7 linked regions of the Homo sapiens genome follow. The protein of the gene in region 6 interacts with the protein of the main gene of each other region in a biochemical or structural test. Each region holds a gene or a part of one and is shown on either strand. Other genes may lie near its edges.

Region 1 (3,500 bases), on a different chromosome or scaffold from region 6:
GCCTGCACTCAGTCCCTGTCCCCATGGCCCCCAGGTGATCTGGAGTACCAGATGTCCACAACAGCCAGGGCCAAACGGGTGCGGGAGGCCATGTGCCCTGGTGTGTCAGGCGAGGACAGCTCGCTTCTGCTGGCCACCCAGGTGGAGGGGCAGGCCACCAACCTGCAGCGACTGGCCGAGCCGTCCCAGCTGCTCAAGTCGGCCATTGTGCATCTCATCAACTACCAGGACGATGCCGAGCTGGCCACTCGCGCCCTGCCCGAGCTCACCAAACTGCTCAACGACGAGGACCCGGTCTGTGAGGGTCCCTGCTAGGGTGGGGGCTGGGCAGGGAGGGGAGAGAGCAGATGTCCTCAGGGGAGGGACATTGTAGGGGTGGAGGGAGGTTATGACCCAGACTCTCCCGTGTGTGATGAGTCTGACTGGGGCCCTCCTCAGCTCTGTGGAAGGGTATCCCGGCCTCTCCTTAGTGCTCACGTCCCCGCCCCTGCCTTTGCCCTCCAGGTGGTGGTGACCAAGGCGGCCATGATTGTGAACCAGCTGTCGAAGAAGGAGGCGTCGCGGCGGGCCCTGATGGGCTCGCCCCAGCTGGTGGCCGCTGTCGTGCGTACCATGCAGAATACCAGCGACCTGGACACAGCCCGCTGCACCACCAGCATCCTGCACAACCTCTCCCACCACCGGGAGGGGCTGCTCGCCATCTTCAAGTCGGGTGGCATCCCTGCTCTGGTCCGCATGCTCAGGTACCCAACCCTGCTCACTGCATGAGCCCAGGACCCCCTCTCACTTGGGCCTCTCCCCTCCCTTCCCTGAGCTTCCATAAATATCCAGTGAGCACCTACTATGTGCCAGGCAGAAGCACACCCCATCCGGGTGCTCGGTGGCTCACAGCCCAGCAGGGAACACAGGCATGTAAACAGCAGGTTAATGATCAGGATACGACACAGGCTATGGCAGAAGAGCATTGAGATTGCTCAAAGGTGGAATCGCTTAATGGCAGGGGATTGACAGATGAGTGGAGTTTGGCTAGTGCAGAGGAAGGGAAGAGTGTCCCAGGCAGAGGGAACAGCAAATGCAAAGTCCCTTGCAAACTTTCTGTTTCCTGGCCCCCTACAAAATGTGGATTGGCCTCATTTCTTTTTTTTTTTTTGAGATGAGGCCTTGCTCTGTCACCCAAGCTGGAGTGCAGTGGCGTGATCTCAGCTCACTGCAGCCTCCACCTCCTGGGTTCGAATGATTCTCCTGCCTCAGTCTCCTGAGTAGCTGGGATTACAAGCATCTGCCACCATACCTAGCTATTTTTTTTTGTTTTGAGATGGAGTTTTCCTCCTGTTGCCCAGGCTGGAGTGCAATGGCACAGTCTCGGCTTACTGCAACCTCTGCCTCCCGGGTTCAAGAGATTCTCCTGCCTCAGCCTCCCAAGTAGCAGGGATTACAGGCACCCACGACCATGCCTGGCTAATTTTTGTATTTTTAGTAAAAATGGGGTTTCACCATGTTGGCCAGGCTAGTCTTGAACTCCTGACCTCAGGTGATCTGCCCCCCTTGGCCTCCCAAAGTGCTGGGATTATAGGCGTCTGCCACCATGCCCAGCTCAATTTTGTATTTTTAGTAGAGACGGGGTTTCACCACGTTGGCCAGGCTGGTTTCGAACTCCTAACCTCAGGGTGATCCACCTGCCTCAGCCTCCCCAAGCGCTGAGTTTACAGACGTGAGCCACTGCTCCTGGCCTTATTTCTCATTCCCATACCAGGCTGGAAGCTCCCTGAAGGGGAGACACTGATTTCACTCCCCTCTGAACGCCTTGCAAGGCCTCTCTAATATGTGGCCTTCCACATGGTGGTTACTTAGTAGGGATCAGTGTCTAGGGGACCTACTGTGCGCTCAGCACAGGGCTGGGGACTCAGAAGCAGGAGGAGTCATTGTCCCAGTTGGGAGAAGAGAGGTGCTGTTTGCTTCATGCTTAAGAGCAGGGCAGGCTCAAGGAGTGATGAGATTTTAGCAAAGGGATATTTCCAGAGGGGCGTCAGTAGCGGGGAGGCTTCCTGGGGGAGGTGGGAACCCATGCCAGGCTCACATGTATGCCAGGCCTCTGGGACCTCAGCGTACTAACCCCTGCCCACCCCCCCAGCTCCCCTGTGGAGTCGGTCCTGTTCTATGCCATCACCACGCTGCACAACCTGCTCCTGTACCAGGAGGGCGCCAAGATGGCCGTGCGCCTGGCCGACGGGCTGCAAAAGATGGTGCCCCTGCTCAACAAGAACAACCCCAAGTTCCTGGCCATCACCACCGACTGCCTGCAGCTCCTGGCCTACGGCAACCAGGAGAGCAAGGTGGGCCCTCCCCAACTCTCCCGAGGCCTGAAGCCCACCCTTGCGCCATCTTCTATCCTGCACAGCCTTGGGCCGCTGCCCCCTTACTCCTTTTAGATGAGATATAGGTGCAGATATACATGCTTCATCATGCGACTGAATTGCCCAGAATTATTATTTTGAGGATAAGGGAAAAAAAAAATCACTCATCCTCATATAGCCACTATTGTCATTTCGATGTGCTTCCTTAAGAGCTGTTCTGTGGGCAGATTACAGATGTGTACACATCCTTGTCATCATAACAATCTGCAATATTGCATCTGTTTTCTGCCTGATTTTTTTTTTTTTTTTTTGAGACAGGGTCTCACTCTGTCACACAGGCTAGAGTGCAGTGGTGTAATCAGGGCTCACTGCAGCCTTGACTTCCTGGGCTCAGATGATCCTCCTACCTCAGCCTCCAGAGTAGCTGGGACTTCAGGCGTGTGCTACCACGCCCGACTAATTTTTTTTTTCCTTTTCTTTTCTTTCTTTTTTTTTTTTTGTTTGAGATGGAGTCTCACTTTGTCGCCCAGGCAGGAGTGCAATGGCACGATCTCGGCTCACTGCAACCTTCGCCTCCCGGGTTCAAGCGATTCTCCTGCTTCAGCCTCCCAAGTAGCTAGGATTACAGGTGCCCGCCACCACACCCAGCTAATTTTTGTATTTTTAGTAGAGACAAGGTTTCACCACATTGGCCAGGCTGGTCTCGAACTCTTGACCTTAGGTTGTCCATCTGCCTCGGCCTCATAAAATGCTGGGATTACAGGCATGAGACACCGTGCCCCACCCCCAACTAATTTTTTATAGAGATGGGATTTCTCCATGTTGCCCAGGCTGGTCTCAAACTCCTGGGCTCAAGTGATCTGCCTGCCTTGGCCTCCCAAAGTATCAGGATTACAGGTGTGAGCCACTGTGCCTGGCCTGTATGATGTTTAAAAAAAATTTTTTTTTGCTATATTGTCCTCAAAACCACCCTCTAATAATGACAGATTGCCTTTCCTTTCCCCTTTCCCCCTCCCCTTTCCTTTTTCCTTTTCCTTTTCCTTTTCCTTTCCCTCTCTTCCTCTCTTTCTTCCTTCCTTCCCATTCTTTCCTTTTCTTTCTTTTTTGAGACAGGGTCTCACTGTGTTACCCAGGCTAGAGTGCAGT
Region 2 (3,500 bases), on a different chromosome or scaffold from region 6:
CTGGCTCCAAGGTTGGCGTTGGGAAGGCTCTGCAGGTGGTGGCTGGGAGTACAGGCTGAGGGCCTGAATTCCTTTGTGACAGTGGGAGAATTACCACATTAACTACTTCTCTGGAATAGTAACAACAATAGTTCCAACCTTGTGGAATTGTGAGGATTATGTGAGATGATGTATGTAAAATGCCTACTATAGTGTCTGGCATGCAATAGGCACTCAATAATTGTCAGCGGTCATTTTTCTCTGACACTCCATCTTGTTCTGCTCTTCTCTGGTTCTGGATGGTTGCTATGCTGTGAAGGTGTGGGGCATCAAAGGTGCAGGCCAGAGGCCCTTCCATCTCCTGTGGGGCCCTGGGGAAGTGAGCAGAAATGTGGGTTCATGTGGTTATGTCTTACTTCTGTGCCCCTCTGAGAAGAGCAGCACCGCCTGCAGTAACTTGGCTTTACTCTTTTAACTTTAGGATGTTCTAGTGACTGGATCCTTTCCAGCTGGTGCCTGGGAAATGGCAGCCACTACTAATTCAGCCTTGAAGACAGTACCGTGCCTACTCAGCACCATTACGTAGAAGACAGAACTCAAGAGGTAAGAGTGAAGTCATTGACATGCTCTTGTGCATCTAGGCATTCCTTCCACCAGACTCTCATCTGTACATCCTTCACCCCTCCACCCACCATGCCATCCTTTCATCACCCATTCCCCCACCCATTTATCTGCTCAGCCTTCCATCCACCCACCCATGCCTCCACCCCTCCATCCATCCCCTCGCCCATGCCATCCGTTCCTCACCCATTCCCCCACCCATTCATCTGCTCAACCATCCATCCACCCATCCTTCCACCCACCTAGCCAGTCCATCTATCTGCTCACCCCTATCATCCACCCACCCATCTGTCAACCCGATTTATCCACCCATCTGCCTGACCACCCACATGTTGATTCAATCACTCTTCCACCCATCTCCTCATCCATCCCATTCAGCTGCTTAGTCCTTCACCCTTCATCTGGCTGGGATGCATTTCCTGGGTGCCCCTCTTTGCTAGTACCTGCATCAGCCTCTCTAGACCTCTGAGCTTGGTCAGAGATGGGGCCTGGGCAAGATCAACTCTCACACAAGGTGGGAAGTAGCTTCTGGCCTGAATGGGAAAAGCCCAGTGCTAGAGGATCCTAAAGGGGGCCAGGGGAGGAGGAGGAGGTGGAGGAGGCGGAGGAGAAGGCAGCTCAGTATTGTGGGGCAGAAGGTGGAGGAGGAAGAGCAGGAGGAGACTTGGTGTACAGCATCCAGGAGGGGAGGCCAGGGTTCAAGAGCCTTTGCTGTGGAGAGGCTACTGGAGACCCTATGAGGAAGGCCCAGGAGACAAAGGTTCCAGCGCAAGTAGTTTCCTGGGAGGTGATCCCAGGAAATAAGGAAATGAGGTGAGAAAGAGAAGGAAGTGATAAAGGGCATGTCGTTGATACAGTTACTGCTGGGGCACTGGAGCTGACTCCCGCTGGGGAGGCCAGGGAAGCAGTGCCCCTCCCAGGGGCAGCTTGCTGGGGCCCAGCCACCTGCTCCCATCAGTCACTGACTGAAAGCTGTCCTGGCAGCATCAGCTCCTCAGCCTGCCCTCTGAATGGCAGAGCATGTCCACGGCTAGAGAGAGTTTTTGGGCAGAGAGACACTGGTTCGTGTAGGAATTGAGACAGGTGGGCCTGAGGTGGTAAGGGCCTAGGATATCAGTGGGGCACCCACCACCCCATGCCCTGCACACAGTGATGTGTTGCTGCTGCCTCTCTCCTCGGGCCTAGCCTGCATTTGGCATAGGAAGCCATCATGGCATTGGACCCAAATGTTTGAGGGCCATGGGTTAGCTTGGTGGACAGAGGCCAGGTGAGTCTCTGGTGGGGAAGTTTGGCCTGGAAAGGGGATTGGGCGTAAGAGGTCATCATCTTCTTCCCAGATTATGAGACATAGGAATGCCACCCACCACTCTCCCTCTCCCCTCCACACCAGCCTGGGTTCTCCCCCATCCAGCCAAGCTTCCTCACTGCCCCAGGGTGCCCAGCACGTCTTTGCCTCCCACTCCTGGCTCTGGCAGTGTCCCCCAGCAGTGCCCCTCCTGGCTGCCTGTGCCCAGCCTAGCCTTGATGTGGTCCTACACCCAGGGCAGGGCCTGGCATGAGGGAGAGCCCCTAACCCTGCAGCCAGCCCTGCCTCTCACACCCTATGTGATGGAGCAAGGGCACCACTGGCTCAGAGCCTCAGTCTCCCCATCTGCAAAGGAAGGGCTGGGCTTTCCAGGCCCCAGTGCTGCATCTGATGAATGGTGCCTGGATTAGGAAAGATTCTGAGCTGCTCTGGATGCAGTGGATGAAGCTCTGTGGCTGAGGAATGGTGCTTGCCTGGGCGAGGCTGGAGCAGGCACCTTGGGCGGGGAGGCGTGTGCCAGCCTTCCCTGCATTGAGTGATCTCCAAGGGGTCTTCCAATGGTAAGGCTTGATCATGAGGTAGAGTGCCCCATCTCCGAATGAGGGTGAGTGGCTGTGGGTTGGAGTGCTGGTGAGGGCCCTTGAACCTGTTCTTTTGAGTGCCGATTTGTGGCAGTCTACATCTCATCACCACCTGGGATTGCAGGGGCTTGGGACCAAAAGGATTGCAGTGCCACGCACACAGTCAGGCCTCAGGTCTTGGTGTTGTGGGGCACTGGTTTCACCCCTACAGCCCAGCCTGGAAGCTTCACTCCTGAAAGGCTGTGTAACCATCACAGTGACTCAATCTTCCTAGGCTTCCGTCTGCTCATCTGGAAAATGGGGATAATAATCACAGTGTGATGGAAGGGATTAAATGAATCAGTTTATTAAAGCTCTTAGAAGAGCACGTGGCAGGTAGTAAGCACTTGATAGATACTGAGTGCTGTGTTCGTGCCTCATGAGGCGCCCTAGCTAGCTGAACAGTCTCTGCATGAGGGATGGGGGCTGTTGGCGCCTCCCCCTCCGAGTCCCTATGTCTTACCCTGGGTGATGCAGGCGCCTGCACTCTCCCTTCCAGTCAGTGCTTTCTTGGTGTCTGGGAATGTGGGTCCAGGCCTTGCCCTGGGCTCCTCCCAGATGTCACCGAAACCTGAGAAGCCCAGGGCCTCAGGGCAGTGGGCATGGGGCATCCAGTTCCATCCGGAAGCACCTCCCGGTGACTCCTGGACCCCACCCTTAGGTCACGTGGCAGCTGCCGTCTGGCATCCTCTCTAAAAGCTCCCAGCCCAGGCCCTGGTCTGTTCTTCAAGTGGACTGGTCGCTGGGAGGCTGCGTCTGTAGGCACTGTGGCCAGCAGGAAAGCAGGGATCTCCGGGGGTCTGCCGGGCCCGCGCTCTCTCCCCACTGCCTGCTCTCTCCCTCCTGGGTTTGCTTCACTGCCCCTTGGTGTTGAAACCGCCTTGTCTAGCTCAGGTAGTGTACCCCAGCGCCCCTCTCCCATTCCCCTCCCGGCGACCCTGGGACCCTGGCAGGCCAACCCCGGTGTCTGTGGA
Region 3 (3,500 bases), on a different chromosome or scaffold from region 6:
GAGTTCAGACCTCCTCCTGACATACTGCTGAGAATGTCCCCTGAATATACATGTGATGTTCTCATGTCAATTTTATCACCAATGCCTAACTTGCTTCTGCTGCTTCACTTTGTTGCTATGGTGCCCATTGTTTACTTTTTCTGGCTTTCCTGTAATCAGGTTCCTGATTGTCTTAAACTTTACAAGGAAGGTGAGAAAAACAGACACATAAAATACAAGACAACATAAAACTGGCATTTGAAACAAGTGCTAAAATGATGCATTGAAATGCAGGTGTGACCAAATATGCCCTCCACATGCAACACCGCAAAGGCCTCTTATTGTACAGACTAAAGTACAAAACTCCTATCATACCACCCCTGCCTGCCTTCAGTCTTACCTCTCGCCTTCTTTTTAATAGTAGAAGTTCAATAATTCTATAGGTGAATTAATGAATCTAATTATATTTCTCTCTAGCCTTCTCAACCTGGCCCCATCAACTAGACTGTGAACTTCCTGGCACAAGGATTATGATTTAATCAACTTTGTATCCCCAGAACATTGCCCAGTGCTGGGGACATTTAAGTGTGCAGTGCAGTTTGTGGGTGGCAGAGCAAGGAGGGAGAGGGGAGGGGAGGGAAGGAAGAGAGAGAAGAGGGATGCCAATGACTGACAGCATTTGTTCTGTTGCAGGATTACGCTCCCTTGGGATGACAATCACCCAGTGTTACGAAGAAGTCGGCCTACTGCTCCTATTTCTATCCGTGGGAATCTCTATATTTTCAACTGTAGAATACTTTGCTGAGCAAAGCATTCCTGACACAACCTTCACAAGTGTCCCTTGTGCATGGTGGTGGGCCACCACCTCTATGACTACTGTGGGATATGGGGACATTAGACCAGACACCACCACAGGCAAAATCGTGGCCTTCATGTGTATATTATCGGGAATTCTTGTCTTGGCCTTGCCTATTGCTATTATTAACGATCGCTTCTCTGCTTGCTACTTCACCTTGAAACTCAAGGAAGCAGCTGTTAGACAGCGTGAAGCCCTAAAGAAGCTTACCAAGAATATAGCCACTGACTCATATATCAGTGTTAACTTGAGAGATGTCTATGCCCGGAGTATCATGGAGATGCTGCGACTGAAAGGCAGAGAAAGAGCAAGTACTAGGAGCAGCGGGGGAGATGATTTCTGGTTTTGAATTAATTTTCAATTTATTTACAAAAGCTATGTACAATTAACTAAAATGATAAAGCAGTGATGTGGATTTCTGTATTCTGATGATGAGTCTCTTCAGAGTACTGCTCATCTTAATTAATTTTTGCTGATATATTGCTTCATCTACTAGAATATTTCACATCACCTATAACAACTGCACAGTGTTCTGACACATTTGAGTGTCCAAAATAGCCAATTAACACAACCAAATACAACTGGGCCAATATAAACATGTTTGAATTGTCAAATATAAAATAATGTTATTGCAATACATACAAAAAAGTTAAAGATTTTATGTATCACTAACATTAGAAGTTTTTTGCACCACTAATTTTTTAAAAATGGAAGGTAAACTGCATAGCCCAGAGAAAGATAAGTAAATATTTAAGAACATATTGAACAACTTTGCTATTTAAAGATATTATCCAAGTACATAAATTACTCCGTTCTCTATCAGTTAAAGCTATTGAATATAATACTTAGCTTTACAAGAGAAAACCCATATTTGATGGGCAGAGATTATATCCCTATCTTCTTTTTCATGTAAACCACTGGTCACAAATGAACTGATCTCTGTATCCCATTATTACTATAAGAGGTGGGAATCCCAAAACTGCTTAGATTGCAGTACATGAGTCTACACAAAGACTTCAACAATTGCACATCTTCATTCTCCCAACTGAGTGTAGTATGTGGAGCATAAAACAGCATATTTCTTAGTATTTCATGAATATCAGATGGTCTTTAAATGTCTCTTTATGGATGTATTGTTCACATTATGGCTTTAAAATAATGAATATGTAAAAGTGAGGTAGTGAACATCCTAAATTTCTACACTGGAATTACTAAATAATCTTATTTCATAAAATGGGAAATATATGTTAAATGACATCACTGGATGAACTTGAAGATCTTTTACTTGTTAACAAAAAAATACTATGGACAGCTTTCTGATTGTTGGGGTAAATAGCAAATGTTCAAACTTTGCAGGCATTTTGACATTCATCATAACAACACAATTCCTAGACATTGTATTATATAATTAAAGCCAAAACCTCTAAAGCTAAGAACTAGCTCATGATTCCCATTATTTTAGTAAATGAGATTCTACAACCTAAGAATAACAAGGAATGCATCACTTTAATACCTACATTTCCAATATAATAGAGCCCCCAAGGGGAAGAAAATTGGTTCTTGAGGAAAAAAAAATCTTATCACTTCATTTACAAAACACAGATAAGCATATTGAGTATATCTGTGGTATTAACATTTCATGGGGGTGAGATGTTAGGGAAAAAAGCCTAGAAGGCTCTTTGCCAGGGGTGAATGGTGATAAGAAATAAACATTGAGGACTGCTTTAATATATAGCTATAAGGTATTTCATAAACTCTATTTAAGACATCATATTATGCTATGCACTACCAAGAAAGAAAGATGCCAGTCAATTGTAAGATGCCATTAACTGTAAAATGCATCCGGATTTCAGATATGTAAAAATTTAAAATAAGCACCTTAAAATCAATGAAATATCGCATGTACTACCTCCTGTTTTCTGGTATGCATGGTTAAGCTCTGAAAACATTTTCACTGATGGCATGAGTTTTAGATTGTGTGCTAAAGTACTTTAATTCATTTAACTTGTTTCCACTTCTCCTAAATATTATAAAAGGTTCAGGAGATATGAATATTAGTAAGATAAATATTTTACTTCTTACACACATACATGGGTGCTAGATTGTGGCACAGGGCCACTAGTCATAGTATAAATCCCTTCCACAATCTGAAGGGAAAGTAGAAGTTAGACACAGAAGGTAAACTTACTCCAGCTTTTCTAGAACTTTCCCTAATAAGAATAGTTACTCTGATCCAGGACTATGCTCTGTATTCATCATGTATTATGCCATTTTATCCTCAAAATATCCCTATTATATAATTACTATTCTTATACTCTTCAAAATACATATTTTATATATTTATTAACTCAACAAATATTTATTAAGGATCTTTGGTGTTCTGGGGACTAGGGAGTCTTTCTTAAACAAGACTAGGTCCTGTTTTCTTGTAGTTAATATTCTGTTCAAAGGTGTGTGAGGAAAAGACAGCGAAACTGAAACATTAAAAGGTATAAACTTGCCTAAATTCACACAGGCTATAGATGGCAGAGCCAGCGCTGAATACCAATCTGCCTGACCCGGAAAACGACACTCCTAAAAGTCAAATTGCAGATTTCATTCTTCCTACACAAGCTCTGCATAGAAATTTATTTTTTAGGCAGGCAAGCCAACTTCTTGTGCATGG
Region 4 (3,500 bases), on a different chromosome or scaffold from region 6:
CTCTCCTTGTTTTTTACCAAACTACTTTCATTGTTTGATATCCAACTAAAGAGATTATTCCTAGATGTATTTTTCTCAAACCTTTATTTACTGTAGGCTTGGTTTATCTTTTTTTGTCTCTCTTCTGTGGAGCTATGCATTGTTACTGAACATCAATCATCTCTTGAAGCATGGAGGAAAAGGGAGATAATGTAGCTTTCCTTTTGTTTGTAGAAGTTATATCGTGGTGACAAGGTTTAGCAGCACAGAGCATTTGAGTATTGGATTCTCAATCCTCTAACCCACACGTTAGAATTTCACATACGATGTTGTCCCACTTCCTACCTCTAGCAAGAAACCTCGAATTAAATGTACTCATGACTTTTCTGTCCTTCAGCTCTGATTTGCTGTTTCTTTGCTTACTTTATATTTTTTAGTAGTATGTTCCTTATTGAGATGCTACTTAAAGCTGTTTAACTCATATGTAAATATATGTATTTCATTAAGCCAGATTGTTACTTGTACAAATAAACATAATTTTTACTTATTCTGTTGTTGAATCATAGCTGAGAACAAAAGTAAAGTTACCATAGAATTTAATTATTTTTGTTTCCTTTTTATTTTAGATTTCTATGTTTGAAAAAGGGAAGGTACCTAAGATTGTCAACCTAAGGGAAATACAAGACGACATGCAGACGTTGTATGTAAACACAGCAGCTGATAGTTTTGAATTCAAAGCTCATGTTGAAGGAGATGGTGTAGTGGAAGGGATTATCCGTTATCATCCATTCTTATATGATAGAGAAACTTACCCTGATGATCCATGCTTTCCATCAAGTATGTTAATCTGTTATCTTAGTTATAAAATATGAAGTTGTAATTTAGGACAGTGATTTGTTTTTCTAAATGATTATCGGTTGGGTTATTCAGGTTAGATAAATATTAAATTTTTTCTTATGCAAGTCTTAGATTGTTAGGTATTTGTAATTTTTGTAATTCCTGATTTTTGTGTACATTCATTTCTAGATGAATAAATCTTTAATGAACTCTTCTTTTAGTTCTGTTACGAAACCAAACTTTTAGATATGTATGCGTATTAATCCTTTATATGTTCCCTTGTCTTCTCTTTATCCTTGTTGCAGTTTTACACTTTATGCAGTCATATTTACTAACTTTTTCTTTATGCTTTCTGATTTTGTCTTACTGTAGAAAGGCTTTTTACATCTCAAAATTATATAAATCTGTAGCTTTTTTGTTTTTGTTGTCATTTTATGGTCAATGCATCTGTGTTTTTCTTTTTTGTATGTAGAGCAAGGTGGGGTTTTATTTATTTATTTAAATTTTTGAGTGATGGGGTCTTGCCGTGTTGCCCAGGCTGGTCTTAAGATCCTGGCCTGAAACAATCCTCCTGCCTTGGCCTCCCAAAGTACTAGGATTACAGGTGTGAGCCACCACACCTGGCCCCCACCTTTTTTTCCCCCCCCAGTAGAGAGATAGGGATTTAACAATTATTTTCTATGTGGTATTCATATTCAGTTTCTTAGCACCAGTTATTGAATGTTATAATTTACCCAAGAGTTAGAACTTGTATAATACAAAGTTCCCATAAGTACATAGGTCTAGATTCTTTACTATAAAGTACTATTTTATTTTTTTTTAATATGAGTAATGATACTGTCTTGTAGCTTTATCTTGTAATTTGGTATCTTTGGGAAAAAACATTTTCACTATTGTTCCTTTTTGAGAATACTTTTGCTCTTCTAGATAATTTTGGAATCAGCTTTGTACATTCACTTGAAGTAATTCTAGTGAGATTATTGGGATTGCATTGAATTTATAGGTTAACAATATTAAACTTTTTCATTCAGAATACTTCCTTAGTACATTCTTGGTTTTCTAGGGCCTGCAACCAGAGATCCTGATTCGAATCCCATCTTTGCCACTTTCTGTTGGACAAACTACTCCCTGCCTTAGTTTCCTTACCTGGGAAATGGGTAGTTCACACCTCATAGGGGTGTTGTGAAGATCAAATTTAAAAACTGGGGCAACTTCTCAGAATAGTGCTCAACACTATTTATTAAGTGCTCCTGCCCAGTACATATTGTTACTCAGTGGCTCCACTGGCCTTTTTGGTTTTGTTTTTTATTTTTTGGAGACAAAAGTCTTGCGTTGCCACACACGCTGGAGTGCAGTGACACAATGTAGGCTCACTGCAGTCTCTGCCTCCCAGGTTCAAGCAATTCTCATGGATCAGCCTCCTGAGTAACTGGGACTACAGGTGCCCACCACCATGCCAGGCTAATTTTTTGTATTTTATTAGAGACAAGGTTTTGTCATGTTGCCAAGGGTAGTCTCAAACTTCTGAGCTCAGGTAATCCTCCCACCTCAGCTTCCCAAAGTGCTAGGATTACAGGCGTAAGCCCCTGTGCCTGGCCATCTCTGACCTCTTAAATTTGCTGTTTCCAATTTTTGTGTGCTAATAGACAAAAAGATATAATTTTTTTCAAATGCTGCCTTAAAAAGAAGAGCAAGTAAGTTGAGTGATCAATCAGAGGGATTCTCCTCTAAGAGCAAAGTGATTTTGTTTGATTGAAAGCAGCTTTTATATAAGGGACTTCTTGTGAGGGCTTTTAGGGAGAAGGTTTTGTTTTAGGTGGGTAAACTAATTCCAGGGTAGCTGAGGTGTTAATATGTCAGGATCACATTGTTTAATCCTAATTTATCTGGATACACGAGAGTGTGTTGCTAATAAACATAAGATTATAGACAATTGTGCAAATTAATGCTCTTGATGCATAGTAACATGTCTTACAGTTCTGTGTACATTTTTCATGCTTACTTGAATCTGAAAATAATTTCTAAAAAGTAAACTTAATTTTAGCATCATTCACTAATTTGTTCAAACTAGGTAAACTCGCTGCTATTAGATGTCATAGATTTCTCAGATGACTTTCATGTGAACATACTAGTTCTGATAAAATTGTGAAACTGTTTTAGATACGGGATTTAAGCTCCTATATTTGTAGGAAGGAGGGATTTTGTTATAGGGGATAATCTTTTTGGATGTAAGACTCTTTTAGCCTCATGAATAGGTTTTAAAGATGACAGGCCCAGCAGCTAGTACATTGGTTCATATATAAGTAATTATTGACTTCTAAATGACAGACAGCATTCGTAATGTGGAACCACTTTGTAAACCTACCTTTTTGTGGGCAAACAGTATAAAACTACCTTTAGGTTTTATAGAATGCAATTTGAAACATTTATGTGTTTGTTTCATTATTTCTCACATTTTAGCAATAAACATTTTGTTCCATTTGCCCTTTTGATCTAGAATTAAAAGATGAAGATGATGAAGATGATTGTTTCATACTTGAGAAAGCAGCTAGAGGGAAAAGGCCTATTTTTGAATGTTTTTGGAATGGACGATTAATACCATATACATCAGTTGAAGAGTAAGTTTGATTTTTGCTGAAATTATGTTTTTACAACTTAATTCTTTTACTAACTAACATTTTGTT
Region 5 (3,500 bases), on a different chromosome or scaffold from region 6:
CCAGGTGGGAGGTCATGGTCACTTGGACCAGAGAGGTAGCAAGTGGTGAGAAGTAGGATTCTGGTTATAATTTGAAGATGGAGATAACAGGATTTGCTGATGGATTGGACATGGGGTAGGATATGGTTTGGATTTGTGTCCCCACCCAAATCTCATGTCGAATTGTAATCCCCAGTGTTGGAGGAGGCGCCTGTTGGGAGGCGGTTGGTTCATGGGACAGACATCCCTACTTTCTGTTCTCATGATAGTGAGTGAGTTCTCCTGAGATCTGGTTGTTTAAAAGTGTGTACCTCTCTCTTCTCTCTTTCTTCCTCCTGCTCCTGCGATGTAAGAGGTAACTCCTCCCTCTTTGCCTTCCACCATGATTGTAAGTTTCTTGAGGCGTCCCCAGTCATGCCTCCTGTACAGACTGTGGAACTGTGAGCTAATTAAACCTCTTTTCTTTGTAAATTACCCAGCCTCAGGTAGTTCTTTATAGCAATGCAAGAACGGACTACCACAGGGTGAGAAAAACTTAAGTATGACTTCAAGATACTTTTCCTGAACAACTGGAAGAAGGGAGTGGCCCTTTACTGAGCTAGGGAAGGCTGGATCAGGATTCTGAGGGGAATATCTGGAGCTCAGTTTGTTAAGTTTGAGATAGCTTGTTAGATAAGTGGAACCGTAGAATAGGCAGTTGTATACATGGGTCTGGAGGTCAACAGTGTTCAAGGCTGGAGATAACAGTCTGGAAGTCATCAATATTTAGGCCTGTGAGAATGAGTAACCTCACCAAGACACTGAGTATATATAGGAAAGAGATCCACAGACCACCCTCTGGGATACTCCAACAATAGAGGTCTGGGAGATGAAATATTCCTTAGGGTTTCTTATGTACTCTAGAATGAAAGACAATTGTAATCGTTTCTTTTTTTAGAAAAAGCTTTATTGAGATAATTCACACTATATAAATCACTTATTTAAAATGTATGATTTAGTGCATTCACAGTTACGTGGACAACACCACAATCAATTTTAGAATATTAGTATCATCCCCAAAGAAACCCTGTACCCTCCTATCCTTAGACAACAACTCATTTCCCCTGTACCTAGGCAACTAGTAATCTACCTTCTAGCTTTATAGATTTGCCCATTCTGCATATTTCATGTCAGTGGAATCATACTATACTTGGTTTGTTTAGAGAGAAGTGGTATCCATTAGTACCTAGCTTCTAGATTCAATAGATACCAAGTTACTTGGTAAAGGTGGGGGCTATAAGATCTCTCCAATGTAAAGATACATTTCCTGTTTGCAATTAGTAACAAAACTGTGGGGTGATATTTTGAGACTATGAATATTCTGTTTCCTAACAGCATTTCATCTAGTGGTTTTAGTGTTCATTGAAGATGCTTGTGTAAATCAGTGAGACATTGGGATTACAAAGTGGTGATTTTCTATTACTGTCATATCTTCAGAAATGATGTAGTTCATATTATTTCTAATTCAGATGTATTGTACACAGTTTGTTCTTTTGTTTTTTGTTTGTACCTCTTTTCTCTCACTGTGAAAGTCTTGGTTCCTAATAACAAATAAATGTTTTCTTTTATTTTAAATATAATCATATCAACATATTTACATTATCCAATAATGTACATTATAATGGTCTGGAAGTCTTGTTATACCTAAAATGTTTCACATTACAGTACCAAGTAGGAATGCTGGATCATAGGATAAAAGCATATATGATTTTGTTAAATAGTACCAGATTCACCCAGTAGGGTTTTACCATTTTGCCTTCTTGCCAGCAATGTAAGAGTTTCTGTTTTCTTACAGCCTCATCAGTATAGTGTGTTGTCAAACTTTTGAATTTTTGCCAGTCTAATAGATGAGAAATGGTATATCTGTATAGTATAGATTTAAAAAACTTTTCTATTATGGAGATTTGTGAACATCCACAAAAATAGAATAGTGTAACCAATCCCATGAACACCATCATTTAGCCCCAGCAACTACCAACCCTGCCACCAGTGCCTCCGTTTATTCCCTTCTCTAAAAATTATTTTGAAACAAATCCCAGATAACATTTTTTTCTTTTCTTTCTTGCTTTTTTCTTTTCTTTCTTTCTGTTTTTTTTTTTTCTTTTTTTTTTTTAGAATGGGTCTTGCTCTATTGCCCAGGCTGGAGTACAGTGGCACAATCATAGCTTACTGCAGACTCAATCTCCTGGGCTGAAGCGATTATCCCACCTCAGCTTCCCAAGTAGCTGGGACTACAGGCACACACCACCATGCCTGGCTAATTTTTTTTTTTTTTTTTGGCAGAGATAATGTCTTGTCATTTTGTAGGCTTGAATTGCTGAGCTCACACAATCCTCCTGCCTCAGCCTCCCAAAGTGCTGGGATTACAATTGTGAGCCATCATGCCTGGCCCCAGATAAATAACATTTATTTTATATCAGTAAATATCTCTAAATGAAAAGGACTCCTCCTTTTTTTGGTAACAATCACAATGCCGTTATCACACCAAAAATAATGTGTCTGTTTTCTTAATATCATCAGACAATATTCAAATTTCCGATTTTAAGTATGTCAGTGTTTTTTTGTTTGTTTTTGTTTTTATTTTTAAAGAAACAGGATTTAAATAAAATCCACATGTCGTGATTGGTCCAGATATCTAAAGTCTTTTTTAATTCATAGGTTTCTCCTCTAGTTCCTTTTCTTCTCCTGCTTTTGAATTTAATTTTAAAGAAACCAGTTATCTTTCCTGAGCCATTTCTTACTGTATAGATTTTGATATTTGAATCCCTGTGGTAGTCTCTCGTGTTGTTCTGTTCTTGGGATGTCATTGGCAATGGCTACATCTCGGTATGGTTTTTTTGTATTTGTCCTGTTATGAGTGATACTGAATATCTCATCATATATTTAAAGGCCATTTTTATATCTCTCTTGGTACAATGTTCATGTCTTTTACTCATTTTTCTATTGAACGTTTGATATATTTCCCTTAACATTTTTTGCAAGCTCTTTAAATGCTAGGGAGATTAGCCCTTTGTTTATGATATAAGTTGCAAATATTTTCTACTGGCTTTGACTTTGCTTATCAGGTTTTTGCCATGGAAAGCTTTTAAAAAACTTTATTTGGCTGGGCGCGGTGGCTCACGCCTGTAATCCCAGCACTTTGGGAGGCCGAGATGGGCGGATCACGTGGTCAGGAGATTGAGACCATCCTGGCTAACACGGTGAAACCCCGTCTCTACTAAAAATACAAAAAATTAGCCGGGTGAGGTGGTGGGCGCCTGTAGTCCCAGCTGCTCGGGAGGCTGAGGCAGGAGAATGGTGTGAACCCCAGGGGGCAGAGCCTGCAGTGCGCCGAGATCGTGCCACTGCACTCCAGCCTGGGTGACAGAGCGAGACTCTGTCTCAAAAAAAAAAAAAAAAAAATGACTTGTAGTCATTTATAAATGAGTTTTTAAAATTGTTACTGCTCCAGGTGTGGTGGCTCACACCTGTAATCCCAGCAC
Region 6 (3,500 bases):
GACTTTCCAGAAGCCAAGCAGAGACAGGGATGGGGCCCAGACTCACGTGGCTGCAAAGCTCATCCCGAATCCCGCTCTATTCCACGTGCTAGAAGCAGTGGTGTTCCGGGAGCCTGTCGCGAGTGGCCGTTAAGAGTTCTAGAACGTGTTCTCCACGGATCTTCGGGGTAGTCCTGTTTGGATAATATCAACACTGAGAGGAAGAATTCCTAAATGATTTTCCTAAAGCCATGTCAGGACAAAACTGCACCAGAGTTAAAGGCGAAGAAGGCAAGAAGACCTTATTCAAGTCTATTATGATAGGAGAGAGAGAGAGATTCAGAGATTCAACTCCACTGAAACAAAGGATGAGAGGGTTTCTACAAGTTGGGATGGGAAGGAGATTAGGGCCATCATTGTCTGTTAATTGGCCTCCTGCAAAGAAACAGAGAGCTTCCCCCATCTTCATGACAGGAGGTGGTTGCACAGCTTAGAGCCAAGCACCCACCAAGGCTGGGCTCCATCCTTCCACAGGGACAGGAGATGACGCCATCTTGCCAGTGATCACATTTTGAAGGGACAGCTCCCAGCTCCTTGAGAAAGACAGTCCTGGGTTGTACAGCCAGCAAGAGACTTCTAGAAAGATTCAGGTATCAAATGGCAGAGAAAGAACATACAATAATACATTTTCTAAAGCAAATGCTCTAAAGATAGGGAGTTCCAGGTCCCAGAGGTGGGAAGAAGCCGGGTCAAGTCTCAGTCCAGACGAGGAAACCCAAAGGCTCAGTCCAGACGAGGAAACCCAAAGGCTCAGTCCAGACGTAGTAACCGGAAGGCTCAGTCCAGACGAGGCAACCGGAAGGCTCCGTCCAGACGAGGCAACCGGAAGGCTCCGTCCAGACGAGGCAACCGGAAGGCTCCGTGCAGACGAGGCAACCCGAAGGCTCCGTGCAGACGAGGTAACCGGAAGGCTCGGTCCAGACGACGAAACCCGAAGGCTCGGTCCAGACGAGGAAACCCGATGGCCTAGCCAGCCGCTGACTGACTGTTGACGGCAAGCCGCTGACCTTGAACTTCAGTGCTCAGGGTTTCCAGTCGTATCAACACACTGCGATCCACAAGGTCTGAGTGATTGTTTTTAAAGGAGCTACAGGAACTATCTGGGGAAATGAGCTATATATGAATAATTAATTTTCCTTTTGTAGAACTTACAACACATTCTTTGTGAGGCTAAACAGTGGAAAAACAATCCCTTGCTTGATCAAGCAGTCTCACTCCTCAGAATTGAATCTAAAGAAGAGTCCATTACAACACTGAGTTCAGAGGAATCAAAGAGCTATATGTATGAGAATGTTTAAGGATATTCCTTAAATTAATGATATTTGAAGAATAATCAAAAGACCATTGAGAAATATTTTAAAATCTTACAACATATTTTAAGTAATTCTACTATAAATTTATACAGTTATATGTACAAATTCACATTGCATGAAAGAGAATATTAATTATTGTCCTATTATTAAGGTTATATTAATAATTATTGACATATTTTTAAAAATCAGATGACAAAACATAGTAATAAGTTTATCTTTTAAATTCCCTTTATTGTTGCTATAATTGTTTCATAATAAATATAAATAGAAAAAATATGTAATTTTAGAATACAACCCTTTTTGTTTTTTTCAGGAAAGGGAACATAATAAGATGATGTCTTGCAGTCCTAGGTGGGGGGTGGGCTTTCTTCAGTCGTGGGGGTGGCTGGAAATGCTGTTCTGGATATTGCCAGAGCTGACCCTGCCAGGAAGCCAGGTAGCTGCAAAGCAGACATCAAATCGACATGTACGGCCTGGCTCAGCATTGCCTTAGGACGTGTGTCTTTATGAAAGCACGTAGTGAACTCATGTGAATCCGGGATGTGAGCCCTGCATGCTGGCCACTCTGTCATGTGAAGTTATGACAACATTTTTATCACGATTCCATTTCACAGCTCAAAAGTGGAGGCTCTGAGAGAGTGAATTGCTCAAGATCAAACAGCTAATACTGGGCAAAGAAAGGCCTCAAATTTTATCTGACTCCAAAACCTGGTGTTCTTCTATTATAATACACAGCTGCCCAAATATAGCAAGTGATAGGAAAGAAACACAATTGACCTTTGAACAATATGGGCTTGAACTGCGTGGGCTCATTTGTATGCCAATTGTTTTCTATAAGTATGTTGGAAAATTTTTTGAAAACAATTTAACAATTGTAAAAACCTCTTAAGACAAACTGTGTAGCTTAAAAATATCAAAACATTAAGAAAAAGTTAGAGATGTCGTGAATTCATACAATATATGTAGATACTAGTCTATTTCATCATTTACTCCTGTAAAATATAAATCAATCAATTTGGCACCATCTGCAGTGGAGAGGAATATAGACAAAGGTAAAGATGCAGCGTTCAATCATTCCTGCCCATGGTTAACTGGAGCACATAGTGTGACATGGGTTTCTGAGTAAAATGTCTTAATCATCCCTGTGGAAGCAATTTCTCTCTCCAGTAAATTGCAGAGCATGGTAACGAGTGATCTCTCAGAGTTCTTGTGTACCTTCCCTCCTTCGTGTTGAGTCCAGTAACGTAAACCTTGAATAACACCCCGGGACCCACACGAAGTGCCACAAGGGATGTTGCAAGTGCCCCAAGAAGCGGGAATATCACAGCATTGCCAAAAAGCTGAATTGTTTGCTGTGCACCACAGATTGAGGTCTGCAGCGTGGTTGCCACCATTTCAGACCATTCATCTCATAAACAGATGATGTAAACTTATGGTGTCAATAAATACAGTGCAGTGCTCTAAGTATATCTTCTCTTCCCTGTGATTTTCTCAATAACATTCTCTATTCTCTAGCTTACTTTCTTAATTCATTTATTTATTTAGAGATAGGATCTTGCTGTGTCATCCAGGCTGGTCTTAAATTCCTGGGCTCCAGTGATGCCCCTGCCTCAGCCTCCCAATTAGTTGTGATTACAGGTGTAAGCCACTGTGCCTGAATTCACTTATTCTATTCTAAGAATGTAGTATATTATACGTATAACATACAGAATATGTGTTAATTGACTGTTCATGTTATTAGTAAAGCTTCTGATCAACAATAGACTACTAGTAGTTAAGTTTTAGGGGAGTCAAAAGTTATGCATGAATCTTCAACTGCGTGAGAGTTGGCGCCCCTAACCCCTGGGTTGTTCAAGGCCCAACTATAATGAGCCATTCAATGGGGGATGTGCGTTCCCACATAAATATCTTCCAAAAGTTTTTCTTTATCAGTTTTGACATTTAAGTTCAGTGGATAAAGAGATACTTTCTGCACCATAAGGTCAATGATGAACATGTTGTTCTTGGTTTGTGACGTGTAACCCTATAGGTTCCAGGTATCCCAGCTGAAGGAGACGATCCAGAGGGCCCCAGAATTAAAGTGCAGTTTCTGTACTCAAGGCTCATTTAGGGTTAGCAACGTATGCACACTACACACATTCACGTACA
Region 7 (2,174 bases), on a different chromosome or scaffold from region 6:
TTGGCCTCTCTGAGCTTTGCCCAGAAGACCAACAATCATACATACCCTAACTGGGACACCACTCTGCAGAATGCAGATGATCCATTCTGGAGGAAGCTGTCCCTTGAGCTCAGTGAGCTCCCAGGCAAGCAGGGCATCTGGCCGACTTCCCTCACAACAGCTGCTCCCACATCCCCTCGGACTGGAGCTTCAGCCCTGACTGAGGTGGGCAGACCTAAGACCTGAGACCACAAGATTAGCTCAGTGTCTACCAAGCATCTAGCCACTGTCCAGGGCCAGAGCATACCACGTCTGCAGTGCCTGTGAGCAGAGCCAGCAGTTGCCCTGTGACTGTAACCACCAAATTGTCCAAACACCCGCTGCAGTTAGCAAGAAGGGTAGGCTTCACCCTCCTTTACTGAGGAGAATGATGCGGAGGAGTTTCCTCTCCAGGGCTAGGCAAGGCAGGCGAGCAGCCAGAAGCCGGGTGCCCACAGGGCAGGGACAGGAAGGCTGTGCTGCTACTGGCTGCTCACTTCTCCATCAACCTCACCCTCTGCACCACTAACCAAGACCTTGTCCTCTTGCCTGTCTCGCTGCTTTCACAGCTGCAACGATTGTGTCTGCCTCATGGGGTTTTCCTCCAGAGCCTTTATTCTGTAGCCAGACGACACGAGGAGTCTGTGTCACTGAGCCAGTGCTTCTAGATGCTACCCTGTGTGGGCGGCACCTCAGGGACAGTAAATCAGAAATGCTGGTCTTGAAACCTTGAAAAGATCAAGCTGAATGTTCCTTTTCATCTGTCGCTGTTGATCTTCATCTATTTAAATAGGTATTCTAACGTTTCCTCTCTGTATTTCATGAAGCTGATTTCCTCTCTCTTTCCTTTTCAGCAATACTGGAGTAACCGCTTCCTAAACCATTTTGCAGAAATGTAAGGGTGTTCGGTTGCGTGCATGTGCGTTTTTAGCAACACATCTACCAACCCTGTGCATGACTGATGTTGGGGAAAAAGAAAAGTAAAAAACTTCCCAACTCACTTTGTGTTATGTGGAGGAAATGTGTATTACCAATGGGGTTGTTAGCTTTTAAATCAAAATACTGATTACAGATGTACAATTTAGCTTAATCAGAAAGCCTCTCCAGAGAAGTTTGGTTTCTTTGCTGCAAGAGGAATGAGGCTCTGTAACCTTATCTAAGAACTTGGAAGCCGTCAGCCAAGTCGCCACATTTCTCTGCAAAATGTCATAGCTTATATAAATGTACAGTATTCAATTGTAATGCATGCCTTCGGTTGTAAGTAGCCAGATCCCTCTCCAGTGACATTGGAACATGCTACTTTTTAATTGGCCCTGTACAGTTTGCTTATTTATAAATTCATTAAAAACACTACAGGTGTTGAATGGTTAAAATGTAGGCCTCCAGTTCATTTTCAGTTATTTTCTGAGTGTGCAGACAGCTATTTCGCACTGTATTAAATGTAACTTATTTAATGAAATCAGAAGCAGTAGACAGATGTTGGTGCAATACAAATATTGTGATGCATTTATCTTAATAAAATGCTAAATGTCAATTTATCACTGCGCATGTTTGACTTTAGACTGTAAATAGAGATCAGTTTGTTTCTTTCTGTGCTGGTAACAATGAGCGTCGCACAGACATGGTTTCAGGTAAATAAATCTATTCTATGATAAATTCTCAGTGTGGTGGTGACTGTTCTGTGGGAGGGGGACTGATGGGCACCAAGGGCCTCCACTCCGCACCCGGGCCTGCCCCTCTACAGGGAAGCAGGGGAGGCTCAGTCTGGGCAGGGTGGCCATGTGACTAGAGGGGACAGGAACCTCTTGGACTCGACTTCACAGTAGACAGGCTGACTGGCAGCAGGTCCGCCCATGTGAAGCCCACCCTGGCTCCCTACCCTTTAAGGATGGGGGAAGCTGAGTGTGTGTTACCAGTGGGGTCTTAAACACACAAGGCCTCACTCGTCAGTGTGGTGAAGAAAGCCAAGACTCCGCGCTCTCCATTGTTAGCAGCCTGGAAAGATCTGGAGACTAGCAATGGAGAGATGTTTCTTAGGCTGTTCAGATCCAAAACTTCCACATTCCCCGTTGTTGATAGGTATGGGATGGAGAGGTGAACAGAACTGAAGCAGCTGTTGGAATTCATTTGCTGGTTACTTTAGTGCTTATTTGGCA

The links.
Region 1: the proteins of SNTG2 (region 6) and JUP interact in a test that uses a peptide from one of them, tested with the Homo sapiens proteins (one large-scale study listed by IntAct).
Region 2: the proteins of SNTG2 (region 6) and KCNJ18 interact in a test that uses a peptide from one of them, tested with the Homo sapiens proteins (one large-scale study listed by IntAct).
Region 3: the proteins of SNTG2 (region 6) and KCNV1 interact in a test that uses a peptide from one of them, tested with the Homo sapiens proteins (one large-scale study listed by IntAct).
Region 4: the proteins of SNTG2 (region 6) and SMCHD1 interact in a test that uses a peptide from one of them, tested with the Homo sapiens proteins (one large-scale study listed by IntAct).
Region 5: the proteins of SNTG2 (region 6) and PLEKHA1 interact in a test that uses a peptide from one of them, tested with the Homo sapiens proteins (one large-scale study listed by IntAct).
Region 7: the proteins of SNTG2 (region 6) and ATP2A2 interact in a test that uses a peptide from one of them, tested with the Homo sapiens proteins (one large-scale study listed by IntAct).

What each region holds. Positions count from the first base shown.
Region 1 is NC_000017.11:41,766,212-41,769,711, reverse strand, and holds part of JUP (junction plakoglobin), read left to right. Parts: intron 1-34; coding exon 35-294; intron 295-504; coding exon 505-743; intron 744-2,131; coding exon 2,132-2,333; intron 2,334-3,500. UniProt on the Homo sapiens protein: Common junctional plaque protein. The membrane-associated plaques are architectural elements in an important strategic position to influence the arrangement and function of both the cytoskeleton and the cells within the tissue.
Region 2 is NC_000017.11:21,695,523-21,699,022, forward strand, and holds part of KCNJ18 (inward rectifier potassium channel 18), read left to right. Parts: intron 1-460; 5' UTR 461-582; intron 583-3,500. UniProt on the Homo sapiens protein: Inward rectifier potassium channels are characterized by a greater tendency to allow potassium to flow into the cell rather than out of it.
Region 3 is NC_000008.11:109,965,772-109,969,271, reverse strand, and holds part of KCNV1 (potassium voltage-gated channel subfamily V member 1), read left to right. Parts: intron 1-672; coding exon 673-1,184; 3' UTR 1,185-3,500. UniProt on the Homo sapiens protein: Potassium channel subunit that does not form functional channels by itself. Modulates KCNB1 and KCNB2 channel activity by shifting the threshold for inactivation to more negative values and by slowing the rate of inactivation.
Region 4 is NC_000018.10:2,697,226-2,700,725, forward strand, and holds part of SMCHD1 (structural maintenance of chromosomes flexible hinge domain-containing protein 1), read left to right. Parts: intron 1-605; coding exon 606-816; intron 817-3,313; coding exon 3,314-3,434; intron 3,435-3,500. UniProt on the Homo sapiens protein: Non-canonical member of the structural maintenance of chromosomes (SMC) protein family that plays a key role in epigenetic silencing by regulating chromatin architecture.
Region 5 is NC_000010.11:122,381,208-122,384,707, forward strand, and holds part of PLEKHA1 (pleckstrin homology domain-containing family A member 1), read left to right. Parts: intron 1-3,500. UniProt on the Homo sapiens protein: Binds specifically to phosphatidylinositol 3,4-diphosphate (PtdIns3,4P2), but not to other phosphoinositides. May recruit other proteins to the plasma membrane.
Region 6 is NC_000002.12:1,261,849-1,265,348, forward strand, and holds part of SNTG2 (gamma-2-syntrophin), read left to right. Parts: intron 1-46; exon of another isoform or gene 47-173; intron 174-487; exon of another isoform or gene 488-570; intron 571-3,500. UniProt on the Homo sapiens protein: Adapter protein that binds to and probably organizes the subcellular localization of a variety of proteins. May link various receptors to the actin cytoskeleton and the dystrophin glycoprotein complex.
Region 7 is NC_000012.12:110,349,420-110,351,593, forward strand, and holds the end of ATP2A2 (sarcoplasmic/endoplasmic reticulum calcium ATPase 2), read left to right. Parts: 3' UTR 1-872; coding exon of another isoform or gene 873-886; 3' UTR 887-1,674; downstream 1,675-2,174.